Linked DNA regions of Homo sapiens: region 1 is linked to region 2. Evidence: fine-mapped expression QTL. Tissue or cell type: whole blood. Region 2 holds a variant in brackets; the other region holds the start of a gene. Each region is shown on its reference strand, or each on the opposite one.

What was found. PIP is the estimated chance that this variant, and not a neighbour inherited with it, causes the effect. A credible set is the group of variants that fine-mapping cannot tell apart.
Region 1: KLHL33 starts here. The variant in region 2 is the best candidate, but not a certain one, in a credible set for the expression of KLHL33 in whole blood (TOPMed, PIP 0.81).

What each region holds. Positions count from the first base shown.
Region 1 is chr14:20,434,737-20,437,643 of GRCh38, reverse strand. KLHL33 (kelch like family member 33) reads left to right here and starts at 1,478. Exons shown (of 5, transcript NM_001365790.2): 1 at 1,478-1,545; 2 at 1,814-2,580. The coding sequence starts at 1,833. RefSeq lists an enhancer at 1,022-1,931.
Region 2 is chr7:50,217,628-50,220,534 of GRCh38, reverse strand. No RefSeq gene overlaps it. Among named protein-coding and RNA genes, the nearest start is that of IKZF1, 86 kb to the left of the region's middle. The variant T/A (reference allele first, on the strand shown) is at 1,652.

The DNA of each region.
Region 1 (2,907 bases), not on the chromosome of region 2:
CTCTGAAAGTAGGAGGGGGTGCTGTGCAGGTCAGCCCACTTCCCACCCTACCCCGCCCTCCACATGAGCCCTTTCATCTGAATCACAAGGAGCAATCGTTCCTCCTTCCCTTATTAAGTCTGCCTGTGGAGTCAACCTATCCAGCCTGGACCAGACATTTTATAGGCCAGGAAGTAGGAGTCCTTGGCCTGTCCTACCTCCCCCAGAGAAGGGAGAGGAAGTGTGTCACTGCACCTTTCCCTAAATCCTTTCTGCAAGATGACACTCAAAACTGCGGCACAAAGTGATTGCCTGGCTTTTAGGGGCTTTAGTCTAGCACTTGGCCTCAGGATGAGAAAGGAAGTGTTGTCCTGGAGGGAGAAGGAGTGGCTGTTACCGTCTGGCTCAAATGGAATACTTGCATGTCCATAGCCCATCTAGTCCAGGACTCTGGTCCTCACAGCATGCAGATCAAGCACACCTTCCACTGTCTGGTTCTTATCCCAGTGCCAAGATGAGAGTTAGAATTCCCCACACTTTTCCAAAGACACAGGGTTGGATTTCAGGCTCTTACCCTGGACCCCACCTCTGGACAGATAGTAATCCCTGTGTGGGGTGAGCCACCTAGGTCCGTAGCCCTGCCCCCTGGCCCTTCACTTTCCCCACTCTTCTGCCCTCCATGAATAAAGCTGGGCTATATTCGCTCCTGGGTCCCAGCTTTTTTGTTTTTTGAGACAGGGTTTTGCTCTGTCACCCAAGCTGGAGTGTGTGGTGCGACCTCAGCTCACTGCAACCTCTGCCTCCTGGGCTCAAGTGATCCTCCCACCTCAGCCTCCTAAGAAGCTGGGACTAAAGATGTGCCCCACCATGCCTGGCTCATTTTTGTATTTTTTTGTAGAGATGGGGTTTCACCATGTTGCCCAGTTTGGTCTCAAACTGCTGGCCTCAAGTGATCCATCCGCCTTGGCCTCCCACAGTGCTATGACTACAGGCATGAGACACCACGTCCAGCTAATTTTTGTAATTTTTGGTAGATATAAAAAATATGGAGTTTCATCATATTACCCAGGCTGGTCTCAAATTCCTGGGCTCCAGTGACTCACCCACCTTGGCCTCCCAAAGTGCTAGGATTACAGGCAAGAACCACCATGCCCGGCGGGGTCCCAGCTTTATCATGCACAGAAAAGTCAACAGCCAAAGCCTGGTCCAGACTCTTTGCCTGATCCTTCCAGCCCACTCTAGTGGCCCAGCCCTTCTGGCCTTGGGCTCATTCCACCAGATCCCCTCATTCTCCTTGGTTTCCTAATTTGCCTAGCTCAGCACACTCCTGTATGACCTACAGGTGGAAGGGTGGGGATGTCAGTCTGGGAGGGAGCCCAGGGGATTGGGTGTCAGAGTTAGGACACCAGGTGCCAAGTGCCTAGCCAGCCAGGACTGGCTATAATTAGCCCCATGGGGCCACTGGCTGACTGGGATGCCATGTGGGCAAGTTCCCTCTGCCACGCAGCCCCAAGCACAGCGGGCGCTTAAGTGAGAGGGCAAGCGGAACGCTGGTGTCTCCTGAGGGTGACTAAAAGGATGGGGGCAATAGGGGAGGGGTGTGGTCCCGGTTACCGGATCTTTACAGGGCTTCTTGCATGTTTCACTGCACCGCGTGCACCCTATAGCTGTCCTGTATATCCCAGATACTCCAGTGCTGGGATGTGGCTGAGGGTAGGAGGAGGGTGTTGGAGCAGGGGAGAGACTGACATTTCAACTGGCTGGAGACATGGTTGCTCTGGCCTCTTTGGGCCCAGCTCTGACGCCAGGCTGTCTTGCCTCTGCTCACCTGCAGCTATCCAGCAAACCTCGGCATGAGCGTCTCGGACACCCCACATTATCCCCCTGAGCTGGAGAGTGTCTCTCATCCCGTCCAGAGGGACTGCCTTGGACTCCTTGTGCACGCCCAGAGAACCCCTTCCTGGCCTCCCTCCCCCGACGAGGATCCCAGATTGCCTTCCTTTCCTCTGGAGGAGCCTGGTTCCAGGCCCCTGGTCCCAAGGAACCTTCCCTTTCCAGCCTTGTCCCTAGAGGAAGAAGAGGAAGAGGAAGAAGATGAAGATGCGGCAGAGCCCGAGTGGCTGCGCAGCGAGGAGCATCCGAGCCAGTTTTTCGCCGAGGCCCAGCGGCTGCGGGAGCAGAGACTGTTGCTGGACGAAGAGGTGTCAGTCGCGGGGCGGGTATACGGGGTGCATCGGGTGATCCTGGCCGCAATCAGCAGCCTCTTCCGAGACAGGCTGCTGGGCGGCGGAGGTCCGCGGCCCCCCTTCAGCCTCGAGGTGTCCCCAGGGGGCTGGGAGGCCGTGCTGACCTTTGCCTATGAGGGGGTGCTGGGCCCCGCCTCGCAGGGGGATGTGCTGGCCGCAGCAGAGGCGCTGGGAGCGCCCCGGGTGAAGGCTGCTGCCCAGCAGACATGCGAGAGGGCTGGAAATGCCAGGGAAGATGTAAAGAAGCCCAGCCAGGCAGAGGAGCTGAGGGAGAACCTGCGCGGAATCGAGCTCCTCTACCGAGAGGGCGTCGGGTGTGACTTGAAGCTGGAGGCAGGCGGCTGCCAGCTGTCGGGTGAGGGCCTGTGGGGCATTAAATTACTGCAGGTGCATATGCTAACGGAATGGTGTGTGCAAGCAGCAGGTGGTTTTATCCCCACCATGATGGTTTTGATCCCTGCTGCTGTCAGAATTTCCCTGGGGTGGCCTTTGGTGCCTCTCCTGCCCCACGGAGAGCCGGGCATGCGCAGTCGAGTTGTTTTCTAGGCGCTCTGACAGATTTAAACTGACCCTCTGTCTGGCTTTTCCTGTGTCCAGTAACAAGGAATCTCCAGCCAGCTGGCTAGAGCTAAGGGTACAATCCATGGCAGTAGAACAAGCAGAAAGTGGATTGACTCAAGCA
Region 2 (2,907 bases):
TATTAGGTTCTGCCTGTTGAATAGAGAGAAGGGGATGGTTGCAAAAGTTTAAGTAATTGCAACCTCAGTCAAAACAGATTCAGGAACTAACTGTGGGAGAGGCAGTGAGCATGTGGGTATGGGTGATCCCTTAACTGAATTGTAAGAAAGTAGTGGGAGAGATCCAGGGTGAGGAGGTTACAGTGCCATGCCAGGAAAGGAGACCTGCTGATTGGGCCACTCGGTAGTTAGGTGAGTAAGCCAGGTCAAGGGCTTACAATTTTTCAGAATAGAGAGGATCAATTTTGTAAGGGCATCTTGAAGTGATCACATTCTCAGAAACAAGCCCATGGTAGTCAAACTCACATGATGCCAAATTATAATCCAAAAATAATCCTTTTGTGAATTTACCATAAGAATCATTTCTTTCTATTGATATTGACATATGTGACCCAGGGTACCACTTCCAAATCAGTAACTATTAGGATATGATTGGAGCACAGGATGGTGAAAACTCCCAGAACACTTCTAGGTACTATTCAGGTCTCTTTAATGCCAGTGTGGGCCCAGTCCCAAATTTGACAAGCATCACTCATGGCTTTCTTCTCCTCCCTTTTCTAATTCAGATTCTTTCTACCACCACCCTCTCCTCAGGTCTGTCTCTATCATTGATGGCACTACTCTTTCTTCATTTGATTTATGTGTGGTCTTATTCTCTCTTGCTTTGATTTAGGAGATACTGCTTTTCTAAAGACCACCACAGAATGCCACTTTCTGCATTGCTTGAAAATTCTGGTAACTGAACTTAGAAGCTCATCTTAGGTGTAAGAACAAACTCTTTTAACTTCTCTCTGTGGGCCAAACAGGCAAAATGAGACAGCCTGTGTCCTTCCAACATTTTAGATCCTTAGTCATTCTGATGAATGAGTGGATGGAGAGATGGACGAAGAGCTCACAAACTCAGAAACAACCAGAGGTGTAACATCTACTAGTCTTTTTGTCTTTCATGAAATCTCACCTTCTCATTATTTTCCTTATCTGTTTGATTATCACAATTGAGCACTTATTCCTAAGCACTATTGCTTATTATGCCTCTTAGGGTTTCTACTCCAGAGACACACAGCCTCTTCCTGACCTGGGAATGTACCACCACTTGGTGCTGAATTGTGACCCCAAAGTGCTCAAGGACCCTCCCCAGGAAGGCAGAACACATGCTTAAACCTGGGACTCTTGAGAAAATGCACATTCTGATTCTGTACATCTGAAGTGGGGCACGAGGATCTGATTTCTACCAAGTTTCCAGGTGGCACAGGTGCCACTTGTTCCTGGACCTTGAGTAACAAGGCCCAAGTGGTAAAATCAAGGGCTTGGAGCTTAACTCTCCTGAGTTGGAATCCCATTTTCCTCCATTATCAGCTTCATGACCTTAGACAAATTCTTCAACTTCTCTGAGCCTCAGTTTTGTTTCTGAGCATGGGGTTGCCACTTGGTTGCCAGGTTCTTGTGAGGATGGAGGTCACGTATGTTCAGTGCCTCTGCCAGTGTGTGCCACCTACAGCCCTCACAAGGCCCTTCCCTTCAAGCCCCATCTGAGTCCCTCCTCCACCCAACGTCTGGCTTCTCTATCTGGAGGATCCTGGAAGGACAAGATACAGCTGTTCCCAGGGCCTTT[T/A]CTAAGGCATGCAGTCTGCTCTGGGGCCAAGTAGCCCTGTGGTGTGGTTGCAGCCCCTGTTTCCACCAGGAGTCACCCTTCCTCTGGACTGCAGCTCCCAACCCCTGGGATCTTCCTGAGCTTTGGAGTTATGGGCATATCTGGCTTAGACTCTCATCTTCTACTGGCACTGTGGAAAGGTGCTCATTTTTTTTTTTTTTGAGACGAAGTTTCGCTCTTGTTGCCCAGGCTGGAGTGCAATGGCACGATCTCAGCTCACCTCAACCTCTACCTCCTGGGTTCAAGCGATTATCCTGTCTCAACCTCCTGAATAGCTGGAATTACAGGCATGCACCACCACGCCCTGCTAATTTGGTATTTTTAGTAGAGATGGGGTTTCTCCATGTTGGTCAGGCTGCTCTCGAACTCCTGACCTCAGGTGATCCACCTGCCTCGGCCTCTCAAAGTGCTGGGATTACAGGCGCTAGCCACTGCACCTGGCAGGTGCTCACCTTTATGTCATCAGCCAGGGAGAGCAGGTAAGTCAGTACCTTTCCCCCACCTCAGCACGGCTGCTAGCTGGAGAGGATGAAGAAGCCTTACTTCTAAATAAAATGAGGTTTATATTTGTTTGGGGAGCACGTTTCTCTCTTGTGGTGATCTGTCCCTCAGAAATTGGTTACTGGCCTGCATTTTCCCAAAGGCCTGGTAGCCTGATTTCAACCTGAGAAGTGGTTCCTCTTTGGCATTTAAAGACCACTTCAGTTTCCGTTGCCATGTGAGATGTGCAATCCCAGATTGCTGAGCAGGGCTTTGGCCACAGGCTTCCTGCCTGCAAAGGAGAGCCTGGCTTTTTACTTGAAAGACAGCAGGAGGCTCTTGTGTAGAGAGCAAGGGGAAATCATTAAGTTGTCCATGATTACCAAAGGATATGTAAGAAATATGTTCTCTAAAGTGGAAATTGCTACCCTTGGGTAACAGGAAAAGGCTGACCATTACATTATAAGTAGGAAATGGGAGATAATGAAATCGATGCCAAGCACACAGTGCAACCTCGATAAGGGAGTTTGCATCACAGCCCTCCCAATTCATTTTCACAGATGGTTCTTCTCTCGGGCATTTAAACTTTGTCTCTAATATTAATCAGTGAAATGAAAAAAGAGATTTGCCCAGTTGTGGTTATTGTTATTGGAGACTAATACCAATAAACTGGTAGTAAAATATCCCCACAATATCCTCTAACATTGGAAACAACCTCAAGGGATGAAAGCTGACTT